2 separate regions of the Homo sapiens genome follow, and region 1 is linked to region 2. Evidence: fine-mapped expression QTL. A gene starts in region 2. The other region holds a variant in brackets. All regions are shown on one strand. Distances are between the middles of the regions.

What was found. PIP is the estimated chance that this variant, and not a neighbour inherited with it, causes the effect.
Region 1: its variant is fine-mapped to the expression of RO60 in whole blood (INTERVAL, PIP above 0.99).

Annotation. Positions count from the first base shown.
Region 1 is chr1:193,228,576-193,239,618 of GRCh38, reverse strand. It overlaps CDC73 (cell division cycle 73), which reads right to left. Exons shown (of 17, transcript NM_024529.5): 14 at 6,465-6,626; 15 at 3,263-3,363. Among named protein-coding and RNA genes, the nearest start is that of B3GALT2, 47 kb to the right of the region's middle. The variant TGTGTGTGTGTGA/A (reference allele first, on the strand shown) is at 5,432.
Region 2 is chr1:193,055,766-193,066,543 of GRCh38, reverse strand. It overlaps RO60 (Ro60, Y RNA binding protein), which reads right to left and starts at 6,932. Exons shown (of 9, transcript NM_001173524.2): 1 at 6,768-6,932. It overlaps UCHL5 (ubiquitin C-terminal hydrolase L5), which reads left to right and starts at 7,184. Exons shown (of 11, transcript NM_001199261.3): 1 at 7,184-7,359. The coding sequence starts at 7,284. It also overlaps SCARNA18B. RefSeq lists enhancers at 6,033-6,765, 6,833-7,362, 6,766-7,498, 7,523-7,832.

The DNA of each region.
Region 1 (11,043 bases), 170 kb before region 2:
CAACAAAAAAAAATTTTAAATGTCAACCAACAAATAAATATAGCCACGTCAAGTATAACATATCTAAAATATATCCAGATATCAGCTTAAACTTATTCTAAATTTGTAAAGATTTTATTTGGCAATTTTATGCAAATCAGTATTTAATCTTCTCTCAAACGATGTATTTCATTATAATTATGCAACATTAACAAAATATAATATAATTTTCTATCAAGGCCCACAGAGATGCTCCCAAATACCCTCAGTTTTCCCCCAATGCTGTACAGTGTAATCTGATGGAGAAAACAACTGGAAGCCAGAAGAGTGAAAGCAGAAAGATCAACCAAGAGCTAAGATAATATACTCCCAAGTTTCTGGCTTAGGCAAATTACTGAAAAGGACTAACAGATAATAAGAAATAGTTTGAGGAATAAGGAAGAGAGTAAAACCATCAATTCCATTTGGAAAAGGTTGAGTTTGATGTACCAATGAGATATCACAGAGAAGTTATCTCATAGTGAGTGAGGTATATAGGTCCAGAATATTGAGCTAAAGACATAATTTTTAGAATGAGGGAATATAAATGGTAATTGAAAGCTATGAGATCTTCTTGAGAGGGTATTTAAAATTATGGGAGAAGAGAAATAGGGACATAACCATATACATTTGATCCTTGAACAATACAAGTTCCAATTGAGTGGGTTCATTTATACATGGATTTTCTTCCGCCTCTGCCACCTGGGACAGCAAGACTAACCCTTCCTCCTCCTCAACCTACTCAATGTGAAGACAATGAAGATGAAGACCTTTATGATAACCCACTCCCACTTAATGAACAGTAAATGTATTTTCTCTTTCTTACGATTTTCTTAACGTTTTCTTTTTCTCTACTTACTTTATCATAAGAATACAGTATACAATGCTAACATGTAAAATATTTGTTAATCGACTGTTTATGTTATCAGTTAAGGCATCCAGTCAACAGTAGGCTATTAGTATGTATGTTTGGGATAAGTCAAAAGTTATATGGGAGTTTTCAACTGCATGATATTGAAGGGTCCATTCCAGTTGATAACCAGAGGAAAAGTAGCAAGAAAATCTGAGACAAAGTGTAACAGGTACTTGGAAAGTAACTTAAAAAGGAGTAAAGGAGTCAACAGAATCAAATTCTGGTAAGTTAACAGTATCCAATATTTGAGTCACTGGTGACTTCAGTGAAAACAGCTTTAGTACAGAGCAAGAGCCAGACTACAGGGGATATGAACAGAAAATGAGTTGGTAGAGACAATTCTTTCCAAAGTGCAGCTATAAAAGGAAAAAGAAGAAGCTAGGGGAAAGGGTGAGGTCAACGGTAAGGGTTTTGTTTTGTTGTTTAAGAAGGAAGGGGAAAGAGTATTCTTAAACGCTGAGAAAAAGGAGTCAGTATAGAAGGAACAGGTGAAAGAGAAAGAACAGTTCATGAAAGTAAATCACTGATGATTGTTAAAATTCTCTAAATTCTTATCTAAATTTCAGAAGACTAAATTTGAACAAAAATTAAAACTTTATATTCTTAATGAATTTCATACAACATTTATATCTTAAAGACATCCTAATCATTTTTTGTTGAAACATTATTCAACAAGGCAAGCAAGTAGGTAAAAAAGAATTCTCGTTGACATTTTACTTTCATTAAAATTCTCATTCCCTTTTTATTTAACTTCCCATTTACCAACTCTGTGTATCACTCAAGTTTCAGAAATAACATAAAAAGCTATCATAATGTCAGTTGCCGGGCCCAACCTGCAGATCCTGGCCGAACGACAGAAGGAAAATGTACGCAGACACAGGTTTTTTCCTGGACGTGCAGCTAGGGGACTGGGCCACTCACAGACGTCGAGGAGGATGCCGTAAAGAGTCACAGCAGCCGCAGCCCTGACATGCCAGCATCTTTTTATTACAGATTTAATGACAAAGGCTTTGAGTCAACACACTTGTGGGTAATTAACGTGGTCACCACTGCCTCGCCACCCCACCACACCACCTCCAACCCGCCACCCCTACCTCCCGACTCCTGCAGTTGATTAAAGGCCACGTTCTGGGAGGCCTAAGTAAACTAACTTATCTAGATCAATTTCTTTACATCCCCAGGTTATCTAATCTTTGCTATCAGGCTCCGGGTAAGAGAATCCAGTTGACTTCAGCCAAATTATCTTTCAAAGCTTTTGCAAAACCTCCCAGCCTTCCAAGAAGGTTTGCATCTTTTTTCTATTTCTCCCACCACCCTGACCAATTTCCTACAGTCAGTAATATTAGAATTCTTTTTTTTTAAATGAATGAAGGTAACAGAAGAACAAATGACTAAAACTTTCAAGCTTGGGTATTTTCTAAGGAAAAATGATGGTACCACTAACAAAAACTGGGGCTGCTAAAAACATAAGACATTTCAGAATTGTACAATTGACATTCATAATAACTAATGGGTGGATCACAAGGTCAGGAGATTGAGACCTTGTGAAGCCCCCTCTCTACTAAAAATACAAAAAATTAGCCGGGCGTGGTGGCGGACGCCTGTAGTCCTAGCTACTCAGGAGGTTGAGGCAGGAGAATGGCGTGAACCCGGGAGGCGGAGCTTGCAGTGAGCTGAGATCGCGCCACTGCAATCCAGCCTGGGCGACAGAGCCAGACTCCGTCTAAAAAAAAAAAAAAAAACTGGCATCAATTTTAATCAAAATCTATGGACATGCAACAGTATTAATTTTTTTTTCCTATTGAGACGGAGTTTCGCTCTTGTTGCCCAGGCTGAAGTGATCTCGGCTCACTGCAACCTCCGCCTCCCGGGTTCAAGCGATTCTCCTGCCTCAGTCTCCCGAGTAGCTGGGATTACAGGTGTGCACCACCATGCCCGGCTAATTTTGTATTTTTAGTAGAGACAGGGTTTCATCATGTTGGTTAGGCTGGTCTCGACCTCCCGACCTAAGGTGATCCACCTGCCTCAGCTTCCCAAAGTGCTGAGATTACAGGTGTGAGCCACTGTGTCTGGCCAATGATTTTTAAGTGATCTAAAAATAATTAGTAATGTTGTGGGATAGGCAATATTCACTTTCAGATATACCTACACAGAAAGTATTAATATACAAAGCTTTTAAAAATATGTCACAGATGCTTAAACATTAACATATGTTACTTAACAGCAATCTTTTGACATACACATCATATGCGCAGAACTATATGACTGTTTCTCTTAAATAAAGTGAGAACATTTCTATACTGGATACAGTAAATACAAAGAGAATCTTACTTTTAGCAAATATATCAACTGGTGATCCATCAGGCAAAAGCCATGGCCAACCTTTGAACTGCCATGCAGGACCCTGCACAAAAACGGCTACAACGCGGTCCCTACAAGTAGAAAAGTGGGTGGGGGGAGGTAGGGGACAGACGGAGATTATTTCAAACTTGAGCTTTAGCTACTATAAATCCCTTAGGCAACAGTCCCATAAACATTCATGTGAAAGAGTCTTATCAATCCTTCCATGAAGCAAATACAGTACTTACCACCTTTTCAATATGATATTGCCATTAGAATGTATTAATGATTGCTATACTTCTCATGTATCTGGTTTTTACACCTAAGTCTTTTAAACATAATTCAATGGACAATACTCGTATGTAATCTTGTTTGCCCTTTCTGTTCCCTTCTGTTAATTAGAGTAGTGGCCCACTTTTCCAATGTAATAGGGAATAGTGGTTGATAACTATTAATCAAAAAAGTTGTTTAAAAAATCATTTAAAATTCAAACACATCTTAAATATTTTACTTTAACTAAAAATATTACATTATAGGAACTCATCAACCATTTTACGAGGTCCCAGGGCCTTATCTGAGTTCTTGTGATTACTTAGGAAGTAATCTGAGTATAGAAACCATTTAGACTTTTATAATTTTTGCAATTGTTTTACAACTGTTTCATTCACCCTAAATTTATAAGTAGTTTTTAAAGCATTTTTTTCCCAACCAAACAACCCAGTTTTCCTAGAAAGAACAAACTTCTTTGTAGGCCCTCAAATTTCATTATTTTATAAAATACTTAATTGAATTGAGAAATTATAAGAAGTACTGCCATAAACAGTTAAAGCCAATAACTAAAGCGGTGGGAACAAAACAACAACATTATCAGCAATAATGGTTAACATTAGTAGCATTTATTGAGCATTTACTATGTGTCAAGTGCCATTTTAAGGACTTTATGCGTTACTTATGATGTTAACACATTTAATCTTCAAAACAATCCAATGACCTCACTGTATTAGAAACCTCATTGTATAAATGAAGAAACAAGTGCATGGGCATGTTGGAGAAGAGAAAGGAGGAAGGTAGAAGTACAGAGAAAAGGAAGAAGAGAAGAAGAGAAGGAGGAGAATAAATTACTATGCTAGGGCACTGGGTATGCTACTGTTCCTATTTAAGGGCAGATAAATCATGAGAATAGCCATCTCAGTATTATTATGAAAATAGTTTTCACCTTGCAACTCTGTGAAAGGGTCTTAGGAATGACCTGAGGTCTGCAGACCACACTTTGATAACCACTGCAATTAATGACGACTGCAGACATACAAAAAAACATTAAACCAGGGTTACCTTCTATTCAAGCAAAGACCTACAACTATTAAAAACTGCCAGCTTAAAGTTCTCAACCTGCTCAAAATCTCCCTAAAACTTAAAGTATAGTAATAATAAAATAAAAAATTAAAAAAAATCTCTGAGACTAAAATTAAATCTTAAGTTAAAAAATTTCCCCTTTCATGGGATACATGCCTCAAACTGTCAAAATCATCTTTGGCAATGCAGCACACTATTAAATAATCTTTCAGTTTTATGATGTAACTTACAACAGTTGAAAGCCCAAGATGCCTGCCAAAGCAAAGGGAATTTGCTGGACAGAGGTCACTTATATTCTACTGGGTCTCATAGCATCAGCACGGAAGCAGAATAAAAATGTTACTCCCCATGAATTCTTGGAAGGACAATTAAAGGAAAAGGAAAATAAGGAAGTAGGGAAAATGCTGGAGGCTTCAATGGCTGGAGACCCTAACTAATACACACAAGCAGTATTTTACAGCATAGTGATGAGATTTGTATACACTGTATTATTTCTGCAAATACACTGCAAACATAAAATACAAGTGATATAACTTTCCTACTTGGTTTTAAGCTTGATATCTGAAATTCTCATCTTACTCATTTTCTATATTACTCAAAGTATCTATTAGGTACCAGAGAAGAATTATAATTTTAAATATATATATATATATTTATGTGTGTGTTTTAAATATATATATATTTTAAATTATATTATATATATAATATGTATATTATATATATTATAATTAAATTATATATATAAATAAATATATAAATTTTAAATATATATATGTGTGTGTGTGTGTGTGTGTGTGTGTGTGTGTG[TGTGTGTGTGTGA/A]GAGAGAGAGAGAGAGAGAGAGAGAATTATCCTACCAGTCTTGAGGCATAAGTTTAAGGGGCTGGTCTACTACTCTATAAGATACTGTGACACTAATTAATTGCAGTGCCCCCTGGTTGCAATTTTCTTAAGAAAATTTTTAATATTAATATTCTCAATGCCTTGACTTCTTAATGCCTGAAAACTAACAAGTACTTCAAAGGTAAATTCATCTAATGTGCCATGTGTTGCGTTCTCTGTATCACGGATATATACTCAACTTTTACTCCCGGTTAAAGAAATAAGGTAATTTGTGTGTCTAAATTTATAGGCACTTTATATTATAAACAGCTTAATATTTTGTTAAAGGACACTTAAATTCAATAAAAGTGTTAAACCATGATAAAAGAGCTATTCCTATTTTTATTACATTATTCCCTTACAATAAAATATGCCTTCATTTTTTTCTTACCAGAAAATTGAAATTCTCCAAACCAAAAATCTAAACATAGAATACCTTACATTAGCCTAATTTGCTGGGTTCTACAAGCTGATCCGGAACAAATGAACAAGTGGAAAGAATTTTTTACACTGGGTTTTCCAGAAGTTGGAATGTTTCTTCTTATAAGTAAAATCAAGTTTACTTATCCAAAATATAAAGTTATTGAGGAATTATTAGAATGTTAACATTATTGATGACCAAAGTAAATATACATCAACACACTTTTCAAAGACAGTTTCTATTTAGAACCCATGATAAAATTTGATAATTGCTCACATGAGAAAAAACAACCAACAATATACAGAAAACAAACGAATATTTAAAAAATATAGGCTGCCAGGTGCAGTGGCATGCACCTGTAGTCCTAGCTATTTGGGAGCCTGAGGCAGGAGGACTGACAGAGCCCAGGAGTTCAAGTTCTGCCTAGGCAACATAGTGAGACCCCATCTCTTAAAAAGCAACGTCATCAACGGCAATAACAACATTCATTCTCTTGGGTTCAACACCTGTGAAAAGATATATATATAGAGACTATCTTACCAGTCTTGAGGCATAAGTTTAAGGGGCTGGTCTACTACTCTATAAGGTACTGTAACACTAATTGCAGTGCCCCCTGGTTGCATCTGGTCTTTTCTTCTTTGTATTAGAGTTTCATTTTCTCGTTGACAACCTTGTTTCTTCTTTTCATCTGATGGGACAAATCTTTGAAAAAACAGAGATGAGAAAAAGTCAATGTATTCCACGTGATGAAAATGGGAAGATAAACTATAATTTGAAATATTTTTTTTTTTTGAGACAGAGTTTTTTCTTATTGCCCAGGCTAGAGTGCAGTGGTGCAATCTTGGCTCACTGCAACCTCCACCTTCTGGTTTCAAGCGATTCTCCTGCCTCAGCCTCCCAAGTTGCTGAGATTACAGGTGACCGCCACCACGCCCAGCTAATTTTTTTGTATTTTTAGTAGAGATGGGGTTTCACCACGTTGGTCAGGCTGGTCTCGAACTGCTGACCTTGTGATCCACCCGCCTCGGCCTCCCAAAGTGCTGAGATTACAGGCATGAGCCACCACGCCCGGTCTGAAATAATTTTTAAACATTAATTAGTTTTAAACTAAAGATGTTTGTTTTTAAATAAACCTGCTCTGCAAGTACAGATCATGGAGTGTATAGGTCTTTCCTCTGTATACCAAATAGAACTCAAGCTCACTCAGACCCTAAGTTGGGTGTGTGTGTGTGTGTGTATGTGTGTGTAACACCACACAATTTATATTCATTCAACTAGCACTTAGCATTTTCCACACTAATACTTAATTTCTCAAATTCTATTAGAGGAAAACTTCATGATAAAGAGGAATTTTATTAGAAATCAAAAGGTCATTTGAAATGAAAAAGTTGTTGTGGCTAGTAGGCTTCTTTACGACTTAGCCTATCCAGGAGCTTCATAAAACTTTTTTTTTTTTAAGATTTTATGCTTCAGCAAAATTACAAAAATACCATCAAACTTCAGAGTAGCCTTGAAAATTTTAAAGTATGAAAATTAAATCAGTGCATGCTGATAACCTGCTATTATTATCAACTAGTGGCATTTATCAACTTACTTATGTGGATCCATTCTCAAGACAGATATTCTTAAAAATAACTTAGCAATCTGGATAGCTATTACCACCTGTAAAATTTGCTAGTGTTCACAAAGTATTTTAAAAGTCTTATTTTCTAAATATATACATAATCCTAACAGTCCAATAACATATTTTATTAACTATGATCTAGTCTCTCCAATAAAATGGAGGGAATACAATCAATATATTGAGAGTATCATTCTGCTTCTAAAGTTTAAAAGAGATGAAAGGGTGAAAGGACCAAAAAGCACAGGAGAACTTGCACTAATTAGAGTTCTCTGAAAAACTTCAATTACACATATTGGATTCATCACATAATACTAATTTTATTGTCTAGAAAGTTTTTAGTTCATGGTGATAATGATGATACTGAACTTTGCTTCTGAGCTGATTGTTCTCACATCCATTTTACATTTGGTTAAAAAGTTAAGATTTCTATATCATTTAAAAATTTCCCCCAGATAATCATTTGCTTCCTATGGCATTTGGTTTATTTATTAATCAAGCTCACTTAGAAAATGCCAGACAGTACTAATACTTTGAATAATGAAACACATTATTTAGAAAATTTAATATGTGTGCATTGTTTGAAATTGCATTCTAATAAAAAGCCACAACAAAAATGTTTTAATAGTATGTGCAATACATTGTGCTATAAGTTTTATAATATACATAGTTGTACAAAACATAGTCCCTGCCCTCTTGAACTTATGTTCCACACACACAGAACAAAGGGATTCTACTGCCAAGAGAAATGCTTTGTTTTATCTCAGTCTATAACTACATGGGATTTAAACTGTTTTAAGTTGTTAAATATAAGACTGCATCTCCCTCTTTTCTGGCTTCTGAAATTTTAACATGGTGTTAAAGTTTAAATTTACTTGTACAAAATTACTTATAAACTTATAAACAAAATTACTTATAATCATATGACTAGAATGCAAAATACATACAAATGAGTGATCTATTACAATACCAAACTAATAAAAAGTCTATTATACACCTATTTCAACTTTTGCAGGTCTACACATTGGTTGATATGTTTTATAAAAGCTCAGAAACATTAACGTGGTTTTTACAATTAACCACCGTCCTAGAATTTTTAGATGCTGTAGCATGTTAATTTCTGATTATATCTACGTATTTTCTTAGAATTAGTCATCTCTATTAGCAATAAAAAAGGCTTTATTTCAAAACGCTTTTCAGCAAGGATCTCATTTGAAAACATAAGGATAGATCTTATGACCTCTTCCCTAAAGTTAAGTCTACTAAAAAGATTAGTATTCCACAGAGTCAATATAATTTTACCTGTTCACCCTACTGCAGTTCATCAAATCTAAGACACAATGATTGTGAGCTACACCATTATATTGTACCACTATGAAAGGAAAAAACTACTGCCAATTAAACTATGATATTCTACATAAATCACAGTCATCATCCCTCCAGAAAACTGGTTATTTCTTCTGGCTTGGGCTGCACTGCTGGGTGTGTGATAGGCAATTGTTTCATATGTATCTCAGGCAAAATAGGTTCATCTACTATTGCTATCTTCCATTTTTAGGTTCCATAAAGCTCCTGGTTGTTGCTTTGCAAAAAAAAAAAAAAAAAAAAAAAAAAAATACGGGATTAGGGCGAGGTGCAGTGGCTTATGCCTGTAATCCCAGCACTTTGGGGGGCCAAGGTGGGTGGATCATTTGAGGTCAGGGGTTCGAGACGTCTGGCCAACATGGTGAAATCCCGTCTCTACTAAATATACAAAAATTGGCTAGGTGTGGTGGCGTGCGCTTGTAATCCCAGCTACTCTGGAAGCTGAGGCAGGAAAATCACTTGATCTCAGAAGGCAGAGGTTGCAGCAAGCCGAGATCACACCACTGCCCTCCAGCCTGGGGGACAGAGTGAGACTCTGCCTCAGGAGAAAAAAAAAAAAAAAAAAGAATGGGAATGTCATTCCTCTAATGCGGAAGAATTCAAACATCAAATCTGCACTCCACTGCTTCATTTTAGTGTATTTTTGAATATACAACATTTTTATTGACATAAAATTTACATACAGTGAAATGCATAAATAGATGAGTTTTGAAGAACGTATACTAAGTATAAGCACCATTCCAATCAAGATAAAGAACATCTGTGTCAACCAGAAAGTTTCCTTATATACCTTTCAGTCAAATGCCATTCCCTTCCTAACAAGCAACCACTCTTCTGCTTTCCATTAGTTTTTCCTGTTTTGGGAATTTATATAGACACACTCATATACCAGATGTATTATTTTGTACCTGGCTTCTTTCATTCAATGTAATGTTTCTGATAATCATACCTGCTGTGGGATGTATCAGTAGTTCATTATTTTTTATTGTTAAGTAGAATTCTATTGTAAGAAAATACCATTCTCCTGCTAGTGGACATTTCGGTGTGTCTTAGTACGTTCAGGATACAGTAAGAGAAATAGCACAGACTGGGGTGGCTTGTAAACAACAGGAATTTCTTTATCACTGTTCTGGAGGCTACGAAGCCAAGACCAAGATATTGGCAAGTCTGGTGTCTAGTGAGGTCCCACTTCCTGGTTTGTAAACCGTATTATTGCTGCGTCCTCCTATCACAGAAGGAGCAAGGAAGCTCTCTGGGATCACTTTCATAAGGGTGCTTATCCTATTTGTGAGGGCAGAGCCCTTATGACCTAATTACTTCACAAATACCCTGGGGCATTAGTGACTAAGTTTCAACATATAAATTTTGTGGGACACAAATGTTCAGTATACAGCAGGGTAGTTTCAAGGTCTGGGTTCGTACAAGTAAAGCTAACATAAATAATTCCTGTATAAGTGTTTTTGTGAACACATGCTTTCATTTCTCTTATGTAAATACCTCCAAGTGAATCATGGGGTATGTATAACTTTATAAGAAACTGCCAGGAAGTTTTCCAAAGCAGTTGAACCATTTTATACTTCCACTAAAAATGTATGAGACTTCTAGTCTTTTGAATTTTAGTCTTTCTAATGGGTATGTGAAATAGTATCTCAACATCATTTTAATTTTTACTTCCTCAACAACTGATGATACTGAGAATTTTTTTCATGCGCTGATTGGCCATTTGTATACCTTGTTTTGTGGAGTGTCAACATCTCTTGCTTATTTTTAATAGGATTTTTAAAAATACTGACACACAGGATTCTAGATACAAATTTTCTGTTACAAATGTGCAATGAAAAGATTTTCTCCCAGCATGTGGCTGGCCTTTTTATTTTCTTAATGGTGTCTTTTGATGAACAGAAGTTTTAAAATTTCTTTTTATGGTTCACCCTTCAAAAAAAAAACTATTTCAAAGTCACAAAAACATTCTATTATGCTTTATTCTAGAAGCCTTACAGTTTCAGCTTTTAAGTTTGTGTGTACAATCTACCTTAAAAAATGTTTGTGTATGGTGTTAGGTAATGGCTGACAGTCATTCCTCTCCACCCATATATTTATCCAATTGTTCCAGTACCATTTATTGCTAAGGCA
Region 2 (10,778 bases):
ATGGTTGGTAATTTCAAATGGTCAGAGGAAAAGTAAATAAAAGGCTAGAAAATGACCACTGGGTTTAGCAAGTAGGAGTGACTAGTGAGAGCAACTGCAGTAGAGTGGTATAAGAAGTAGCTTGATTACAGTGAGATCAGGAGAATATGCAGTGAGGAAGAAACTTCACAGCTAGACTACTCTTTTGTAGACACATACTTATAAACTATGAAGGAAAGTAAAAGAGGATGGGACTTAGAGAAAAAATCTTTTTACCTTTTTCAATGGGAAGATGCTAACATTGAAAGATTCAATTTGGAGAGCTGAAGATACAGTAGAGAAGGGGGATAACTGAAGGAATTTCTTAAAGAAATGAGAATGAGCTTAGAGCATCCAGGTTGAGACTGGCCTACTGACAGCAAGAGATATTTCCTTTATCTTTTAAGGGTAAAGAGTATAGGTAAAGATAGATTTGAAGGAATGAGGGATAAGGAAACTGAAGACATTCCCCCCTGACAGGAGATGTAGAATGCCAAATGGTATGTGGAGAAGTTTGGTAGAGAGGGGAGGAATGAAAGACTGGGTCTCAGAGAGGGGAACACATAGTGGTGTAGGGATAAGTGCATGGGAGAATGAAGAGCCTCACATTTTGAATGTGACTGAGGGGGACAGTGATCTGAATTGTGTTCGGAATATTAGTGTCAATATTCCAAATAAGACGCTAGTATAAATTTGCTTATGTTAGTGGAAGCCTAGGTCTCAGGTGGCATCAGAGATGTAATGATCATATTAGTCATTAGGGACAAATTCATAGTTACTGAATACAGCATAGGTTGAAACTCCTGTTGCAGTGGATGCCTGTTCTCCTATTTATTATTATCCTCTTTTCAAATTTGGCTTTTATCTCTACCTTTCGATCCAAAACACTTTAAGAAGACTAACATGCTTCTCAAAGACTGATACCTTAATTGCCAATTCCAGTAGACAATGTTATGTTTTTCTGATCTTTACATTACATAGACTTTGCTAGTCTCTCCCTCAGCTTTCATAAAAACAGGCTCTGGTTGCACTTCAACCTGTCTACTTCTGCTTATTAGTTTTATTTGTTAGATGAGTAACACTGAAATGACATCTAATATCAGATAATTCTACTAAACTTGCTTTCCTGCACCAAGGCCCAAGTGGTGGGATTTAAAAGGTCCCAAACCAAACCTCAAAATTCCCTCTCCCCTCAAATTCTTTTCCTTGTATTATTCATTGTGACCACATGTAGCTACATTATTGGTTCCCTTGAAAGTAGAAACCAAATCTTATCATTTTTGTCTCCTCTTTTGTATTGCTTTTATGTAATTAGCAATACATACTTAAAGCCAAATATCATTAAAGTTGACTTTCTGAACCATTTGCCAAATAATTATGCACAATTGGTTTCTCTTTCCCATAACACATTTTGAGAATAAAAGCCTCAATATTTATAATGCAAAATATAATACAAGTCTTTAAGATAAATTCTGTAATCAGAATGATAAATGTACTATATGCAGGTAGTGAAAAATATAATCAAGAAAAAATAAAGTTCTAAAGAAAAGTAATGAATACTGAGTAAAAATGTCATCTAAGAACAAAATTTCTGTTTTTCTAACATATTTAATATTAGGTATTCAGGTACTTCTCTAGAGCAAGCAGCAAAATGAACTTTTAAATCTATGAAGGATGTCTAAGAGGTAATCTCTAAGTATAATCCTTATAATCCCTATTAGAAGAAATAAAGTTACTTATTCATGGACTCTTCCTTTTGCATGTTATGATATAAATGACAACCCTGAGGACATACCCTTTCAGTATTTCTGCAGCAGAAACTGCTCAGGTTTTCCTATGCTTCTGTGACTGTACTTTCCAGAGTGCAACATAAAACAGTGGAACAGATAACATTATTAGCAGCCAGGGCACCTTCCTACTTGATTATATAAATTTACCAGGGTCATATTCATATTTTAAAAGACAGAAAACAGAATAACATGTCCCAAGTTACTCTCCTTCTTGTCACTGAGTGTGATACACACATAAACTCAAAATTCGGCAAAGTGATGTGATACTGTGGCATCTTATAAGAGAGAGTACCTGGTCTTTGGACATAATACCCAGCAGAAAGTTTCAAAAACCCGTGGTATTTCCTGAGAAATAGGAGTGTCTTTGTTACATTAATGAGGCAACATGGGCCCCTAGGTAGCTTCAGGATGGGGGCTAATCACTAGAAAGACCAACTATATGTTTAGAGGAATAAACTGGTCAGGCCAACCTTCCATGAAAGGAGGAGGACTTGAGATCAAGTTCAGCCATGTAGCTAATGATTTAATCAATCATGCCCATGTGATGAAACCTCATAAAAACTTTCTTCATCGATACTCAGTGGAGCATCCTTGGTGAACAAAAACTGATGTGCTGGGAAGGTGATGTGCCCACATTTCACAAGGATGGGCATGGAAGTTCTGCATCCTTCCCTTGCCCCAGACCTTGCCATATGTGTCTACTTCCTGTTTGGCTGTTCCTGAGTTGTATCCCACATTTCACAAGGATGGCATGGAAGTTCTGCATCCTTCCCTTGCCCCAGACCTTGCCATATGTGTCTACTTCTTGTTTGGCTGTTCCTGAGTTGTATCCCTTATAATAAAACTGTAATTGCAAGTAGAGCACTTTCAGTGAGTTATGTGAGTCATTCTAGTGAACTATCAGCCTTGAGGGGATTATGGGAAGTCTTGAATTTGTAGTCCGCAGGGCAGAAGTGTGAGTAGCCTGGGGACCCCATTTACAGCTGGTGTCCAAATTAATGGCATTCTTAGTGGGGACCTTGTCCTTTAATTTGTGGGATCTGATGCCAACCCTGGGCAGCTAGTGCCAGAACTAAACGGAAGTGGGGGACACCCAGCTGATGCTACAGAATTAGTGTTGGAACGCAGACACCAAAGGCAAAAGTGACAAAATAAAAAAATAAACTGGACTTTATCAAAATTTAAAACTTGTATTTCCAAGGACACCATCAAGAAAGTGAAAAGACAACCCAAGAAAAAGGAAAATATTTGCAAATCATACATACAATAAGTGACTTGTATCTAGAATATATTAAGAACACTTACAACTTAATAATAAAATGATAAATAACCCAAGTAAAAATAGGCAAAAGATGTGAATATTACTCCAAAGACACACAAATGGGTAAAGAATCTGAAAAGGTGTTTTTCCAAAGAAGATTATCAAATGGCCAGTAAACACATAAAAAGATGACGAACATCATTAGTCATCAGGGAAATGCAAATCAAAACCACAATAAGATACCACTTCACATCCACTAGGACAGCTATAATCAAAACAATAATATTAAGTGTTGGTGAGGATTTAGAGAAAATGAAACGCTCATATACTGCTGGTGGGAATGTAAAATCATACAGCCACTTTGGAAAACAGTCTGGCAGTTTCTCAAAAGGTTAAATATAGTTAGCATATGACCGAGGAATTCTACCACACACCTAAGAAAAATGAATACATGTATCTAAACCAAAAGTTGTATCCAGATGTTTTTATCAACATTACTCATAACGGTCAAAAAGGAGAAGCAACCCAAATGTCCATCAACTGATGAAGGGATGAAAAAAATATGGTATATCCATACAATGGACTATTATTAGACAATAAAAAGGGATGAAGTAGTGATACATGACACAATGTAAACAAACCTTGAAAACATTATGCCAAGTCAAAGAAGCCAGTCACAAAAGGCCACATATTGTATTACAATTCCATTTATATGAATTTTCCAGAGTAGGTAAATTCATAGAAATAAAAAGTACATTAGTCTAAGGTTGTCAGAGGCTGTCGGAGTGGGGGAACACTGGGAAGTGACTGCTAATGGGTAGGGGATTTCTTTTTGGGTGATGAAAATGTTCAGAAATTAGTGGTGATGACTGCACAACTCCGTGAATATACTAGAACCCAATGCACTGGATACTTCAAAATAGTGAACTTCATGATATGTGAATTATATTCTAAAAATCTATTATTAAAAATACAAACATAAACTAGCCAGGTAAAATATATTTGGAAAGTTATTTAAATAAACAAGCACTTAACTCTGCTATTATCTATATCAGAATGGAGAGCACCAATACAATTGATTACACAAAAATTATATTTAGCCCTACAATTTTTATATTTGACTTTTAAAAGCAATTTGAGATACCCACAAGACATATACAGCAACTTAATTTCTTCTTTCTCCAACTGCCATCATCTCCTGCCTCAAAGCTTAAGCTCCATTATCAGTGGTTTAGAAGGCAATTGGGCAGTGAGTGAGGTCAGAACCTGGTCATCAGTTAATCCATTCCTGGATAATCAAGTGTTGTAAATCCAGATTAACAACAAAAAGATATAGTTAATTCTTTGGATGGGCCTGACCTATCTATCTAGTGCTCTTAAAACACACCATACAACTAATGTTGTATTAAATCTCTATAAATTAAGTTCTTGAGAAGTTAAATATTACAATACTATAATATTAAAAGCATGGACACTTTTTTTTTTTTTTTTGAGACAGACTCTCACTCTGTCACCCAGGCTGGAGTGTAGTGGCGCGATCTCCACTCACTGTAACCTCCGCCCTCCGAGTTCAAGCGATTCTCCTGCCTCAGCCTCCTGAGTAGCTGGGATTACAGGCGCCTGCCACCGCACCCGGCTAATTTTTTGTATGTTTAGTAGAGACGGGGTTTCACCATGTTGGCCAGGCTGGTCTTGAACTCCTGACCTCGTGATCCACCCGCCTGGGCCTCCCAAAGTGCTGGGATTACAGGCGTGAGCCACGGTGCCCGGCCAAGCATGGCCGCATATTAAATTGGTTGTGGATATTTTATACAATGTCCATTTCTCTACTTTTAAATTTAATTTAGAATGCAAAATCAGGAAATGCTAGTAACACACATTATATAATAGCACTTGTTTCACAATCATCAGAACTACAGCATATACAGTATCTTTTATCAGTACTAATGTGTTATTTCCAAGGAATCCTACATTTTTCTTGAATTTACACATCTCAATATCTTCCAAAGTCTCTTTATAATTTATTTGAAAATGCTGCCTTTCATCTCAAGAAGTCAAACACATTTGCAGATTATTCCTTTTTAAATGAAGTCAAAGCTGACATATCTATGAGAGTGCATGACAAATGTAAAGAAACAACAATAGAAAATTGGGCCCATGATAGAGGTTTGTTTACCCATGATACAGGTATCTGAATCCACTGATCAATGTGATGCTATAAAAACTGATGAGGAAGGAACTGTGGCAAAAATGACAGCATGCTAGTCTGAGGGGAGCTGCCAACTGGTTGCCACGTGGTATGGAACTAGTAGTTGCCAGATCTCATTTTTCTCAAAGACCCAGAAATCTGGCTTTTTATGTAAACTCTCAGGATTAAACGTTAACATAATGAAAGGCATCTTAACCCCCTTCTCTGCTTACTTCTAGATTGTGCCAAAGGCTAAATTTTCAGTTTGGTCTTTCTACAATAGGTACCATGTTAATTAAGTTGGGTATCAAGTACATTTTAGTTTTGATGTATTTTGCACAGAAAACATTTTCAAGTTCATAGCAATATTACAGATTAAAAAAAATACCACAAACTACTTTGGGCTCTGATGCCAATCATTCTGGACTCTGTGCCTCTTAAACTTTTCCAATAAAGTATCTCAAGGAAATATACTGTACAGAATCCTCCTAGTCTCCAAGTTGAGGGCAGAGTTTCCGGAGATAAACTTCAAGAAAGTTACAAAAAAAATTTTTTTTAAACCAACACTTCATACAAATTTTGGCTTCTACCCCATAGCGTACTCAGGCTCCTTTTAATACAAAAGCTGCTCTGTTGCTTCCCTCAATAAAATTTACCACGTTTATTTCATGGCTTCACATAATCTGTAGCACAAGGCTCCCTAACTCCAGGGCACAAGTCACCTATTTGAGAAGGAAGGAGTCAGAGTTTTACCCACTAAAACATTTTTTTTTTCTGGAAGCCAAAGGTCTTTCTTGGAATATGTAGCTTTTAAGGAGTAAATATACACTTAACGACTTCAATATACTCTTAAAAACTTTAATCTTAACACTATAGTATTCTATAAGAGCCTGCTGAATGAGGGCAATTTAGTAAATATTTAGTAAATATTTGGTTTAACTCATCATCCAGTTTTAGAACCATTCCAAATGTTTTTAGATTAATACACGACATTTGTTTTCAACCTAATTTTCCCTTGACGCACCGCATCCCCTTCCACTAGTCTAGCAGCCCCATGGACAAACCTTTCTCCTCTCCCTCGTTATTCCTCTGTGATAAATTCACCCTGTCTTCCCACAAAGATCCTTCTTCCAAAACCCAGATCCCGGGCGACGCCTCTCCGCGCAGAAGCCGCGGGAGAAGGAGGAGAAAGAGGAGGAGTAAAGCAGGCCCTCTCGACGTCGGCCTGTGGGGAGCGATGCCGACAAGCAGGAGCGGTCCCGGCTTCGGAAAGGGCCCACCCTGAGGAATGGTCCGGCCGGGCCTAGCGAGGATGTCCCTACCGCGATGCTGGTTCCGTTACCCAGGGTGGACAGGCGCGGAAGCGGGACGGGGAAGAGCGATAGTTTCGCGGCGTTTGCCCAGCCTCAACCCCTGGGATGCGGGTGAGAGACATGGAGGACTGGTCAGAATTTGCGCGTCCCTGGGGCCGCACAAAAGGCTCCCAGCCGGCCTCCCGCAATGTCCTCACCTGTACCTGGCAGCCGACCCCCTGGATCCGCAGCGCCGCCAGGAGAAGTCCTGCGCAGCGCTGGGAAACGACAAAAGAAGGCAGCCTGACGGGCAGCGACAGCCACAGCAACAGCAACAGCCCCACTGCCGCCGGGGATTCCAGGTTCGGTTCCCGGGAACGAGTCCTGCCCCTCTTCTTTTGCCCCGCCTCCGCCCCAGAGGGGCGAGGATCCCGGATGTTGCCTCCTCGGCGCTGTGAATCACCGCCCTTTCTTCTCAGGCCCCAGCCCTTCCGAATCCGCTACGGGTGCTGCAAGGCCTGGGAAGAGTTTCGATGTCTCTAGGGTGGCTAGAGCGTCCTCCCGCGCTCAGTCGCGCTGCAGGTGACGGCGCCCGGAGGCTGTCGGGAAGTAGGCGGGGTGACGTGTGGTTGACGAGCTCGGCGGCGGGTTTGCTGAGATCTGTGGCCGGCGGCAGCTGGTGCGGGGGGCAGCTGAGAGCGAGAGGTGGATCGGGGCGGTGTGTGGCCAGGGCCATGACGGGCAATGCCGGGGAGTGGTGCCTCATGGAAAGCGACCCCGGGGTCTTCACCGAGCTCATTAAAGGATTCGGTGAGAACCAAGGGGACCGTCCTGGGCCTGGGGTCACGGGAGGAGGCCCAAGCTGGGCATGGAGTGGTTCCCTGCGGCCACCGCCGCCCCGCGTCTGGAGAGGTGACTTCAGGAACCTGGAGTCCGGGTGGGGGAAATGTAGATGTTCTGCCCTCTCCTCAGCTCGAGACAGTCGCGTTTCCACAGTAATTTGTAGAGCCACACCACGAGGGCAAGGATCGTGTCAGTCTTGTGCCTGCTGCATCCTCAGGACCTGGCACCCAAATCCTGTAATTGACTTGAGGGCCCTCGCTCCCCAAGCTCTTAAGCACGTATTGCCCTTTGCACTGCCCCTTCTCTGCGGCGCGCACCTTATCCCGGGCTGGTGAGGTCAAGTGCATTGCTCAGGCCATTAGTCCTGCAGAAGCCACCCTAGGGTGCGCCTTCTCAAGGGTGAGGTGTCTGCGGCTCAAGCCGCCCAGGAACTCGAGATTCTGGTTATTCAAAGCAGAACGCCTTGAATGTGTGAATAGCTCTTCGGGACGTCCACACACGCTGACTGCGTGGGCCTGAAAGGCCACTTCACTGGTTCCGCTCTCTGCTCATTTCTGGCTTCCGGTGAAGTGAGTTTTCTTGAGCTAGTGTTCTAGACTAGAGGCCACATGCTTTCCTCACAGTTTCTCTCTGGCTGTATTTAGTGCCTTTCGTCCTAAATAATCAACACATTTTACTTTTTATCCTTCCCTATTTATCTTGTTCTTAGTCTCTTCTTTGGACAGTACGTTTTTATCTATTTCCCAAGTGTTATTGACTCTACGATGTTAAAACTTTTACGCGGGATTAACAATTAAACGTTGATGTAGATATTGCCTGTTGTACACAGCTTAATATTTGGAATGTCATTTATCAAGCATATGTTGTTCATCTTCTATATCTCAGGCACAGTGGTAAGGATTGGGAAATTTTCTTTTTTTTGTTTGAGACAGAGTCTCGCTCTGTCGCCCAGGCTGGAGTGCAGTGGCGCGATCTTGGCCCACTGCAACCTCCATCTCTCGGGGTCAAGCGAATCTCCTACTTCAGCCTCCCGAGTAGCTGGGATTACAGGCACGCGCCACCATGCCCGGCTAATTTTTTTTTTTTTAGTAGAGACAGGGTTTCACCATGCTGGCCAGGCTGGTCTCAGCTCCTGACCTCGTGATCCACCCGCCTCGGCCTCCCAAAGTGTTGGGATTACAGGCGTGAGCCACGCGCCCACCCAAGGATTGGGAAATTTTCATGTGAATAAACCATAACTGCTGTTTCGAATAATTGACAGTCAAACTATAATATGGTGTGTTAATTGCTATGTTAGAGTATATACAAAATGTTAAAAGTACACAGGTCATGGAGGAGCACAGCCAGAAGGAAAAGCATAAACAGTAGTGATGTTAAAGTATATGGGTTAGCCAACAGCTAGCAAAGTGACTAGAACATAATATAGCAGACTGGAGGAATATTTATTTGGATCTGAAACTGAAAAGATAAACTGAGGACAGATTGTATGCCATGTTGTATAGTTTGAATTGCCCTGTAGTGACTGGGGATTTACCTATCAAATATATTTTAATGCTGAAATGACATTATTTTCATAATTAAGGTTTATTGTGCTTTTAAGTGTGCAGGGCAGGTTGGAATAAAGTGAGAGAAGCTAGACATCTCTTAAAATGGTTGGAGTCCGAGATGATTGGCTAAACTAGTGGGTTAGGAAGGAGGAGTTAGATTCAATAAGTTTGCTATATTTAAATCAACAGTTGCATGTGGTAATGTCTGCTCTTCATTCCTTTGGGAGCAGAAATACATCCATAACACGCTAAATTAAAAAAGGAGTTCTCAGGGCTGCCAACCTTACAGTAGAGGTTGAGTGGTAGTATATTACTCCTACATAAGAGAAAAAAAATCAAAAGGACTGCTTACTAAAAGTTGGGGAAAAAAAGAGGCAAAAATAACTCCCTGGTTTCTAGCCTGGGTGGCTGGTGAAACACTCTTACAAGTGAAGAGCAGGCTTGATGGACAAGAAAATGGATTCAGATTTGGACAGACACTGAGTTTGACATGTCTGCAGATTTAGTCATATATTTTACGTTCAAAACCTTAACAATATGTTAAAGTTAACTTTCAGAAATGTTGTACTAGGTAAGTTTGTTTTTACTCCTTCAATTTCATATGTGCAGAAAACTTGGAGATCATGCATGAAAGAATGATATATAAATTCATCTTCTGTACATGCACATATGAAAAATCAGCAGCTATTAATAAATTGGCTTCATTAGCAGAAGAACCTGCAAACAATTAAATGGTGGTAGTTTATGTCACCATCAGATGCTTCAAAGAGAAAATCAGTTTATTCCAATTATTTCCATCATTTTCATTTTTTCACCCAATTTATAGATTTAAAAAAGCTTTTGGCTGTTGATTCTTTCAAAAATGAAATACCTGTATTGTGAATGCTGTCATAAATTCATTTCAAAAGTTCCATCATTGAAAGGGAAATGAATTGTAGATGCAGTAAGTATGTAAATACAGATTTTGGTAGAATGTAGTATCATTAAATTAAGAAACTGGTGGAGCAGAACTGTACTTTTAATTGGTATGGTCCACACATAATACATATGTGTGCCAAAACAAACCGTGATGGTCTGTTAATAAAAACAGAAGCTGTAAATATTTGGTTACAGCCAAGATAGAGTAATGGGGACTAGATTCATTTTTCTTACAACAAACCAGTGACCCCAGCTTTCATTTTAATAAGAAAGTAGAAAACCTAGAGTAAGCAGATGACAGGAAATAATAAAGATCAGAGTTGAAATTAGTGGAACAGAAAAGAGAAAAAAATGGAGAAAATACATGAAACTAAGAGCTGTTTTTTGGGGAAGATCAATAGAATCACTCTAGCCAGACTGATCAGAAAAAAAGAGATGTTCCTGTATTTCAGTATAGGAATGAGAGAGGTGACATCACTAAAATTTTACAGATATTAAAAATAATATTATGAACAACTATGCCAATAAATTTGACAATTTAGATGAAATGTACAAATTCCTTTAAAGACACAAATTACCAAAGTTCACTTAAGAAATAGATAACCAGTATATGCCCTGTGTTTATTAAAGAAATGGAAATTGTAGTTTAAAATTTTCCCACAAAGAAATTCTAGCCAAGGTGGCTTCACTGGTAAATTCTATCAAATATTTAATATTATAAATAATACCAATTCTACATAAACTCTTCCAAAATAATTGGAGAGGAAGGAATGCTTCCCAACTCATTTTCTGAGGACCAGCATTATCCTGACACCAAACCAGACAAAGATATTACTAGAAAAGAAAATTGCAGACCTATATCCATCATTAACTTAAATGTACAAATTTTAAACCATTTTACCAAATTGAATTTAGTAATTC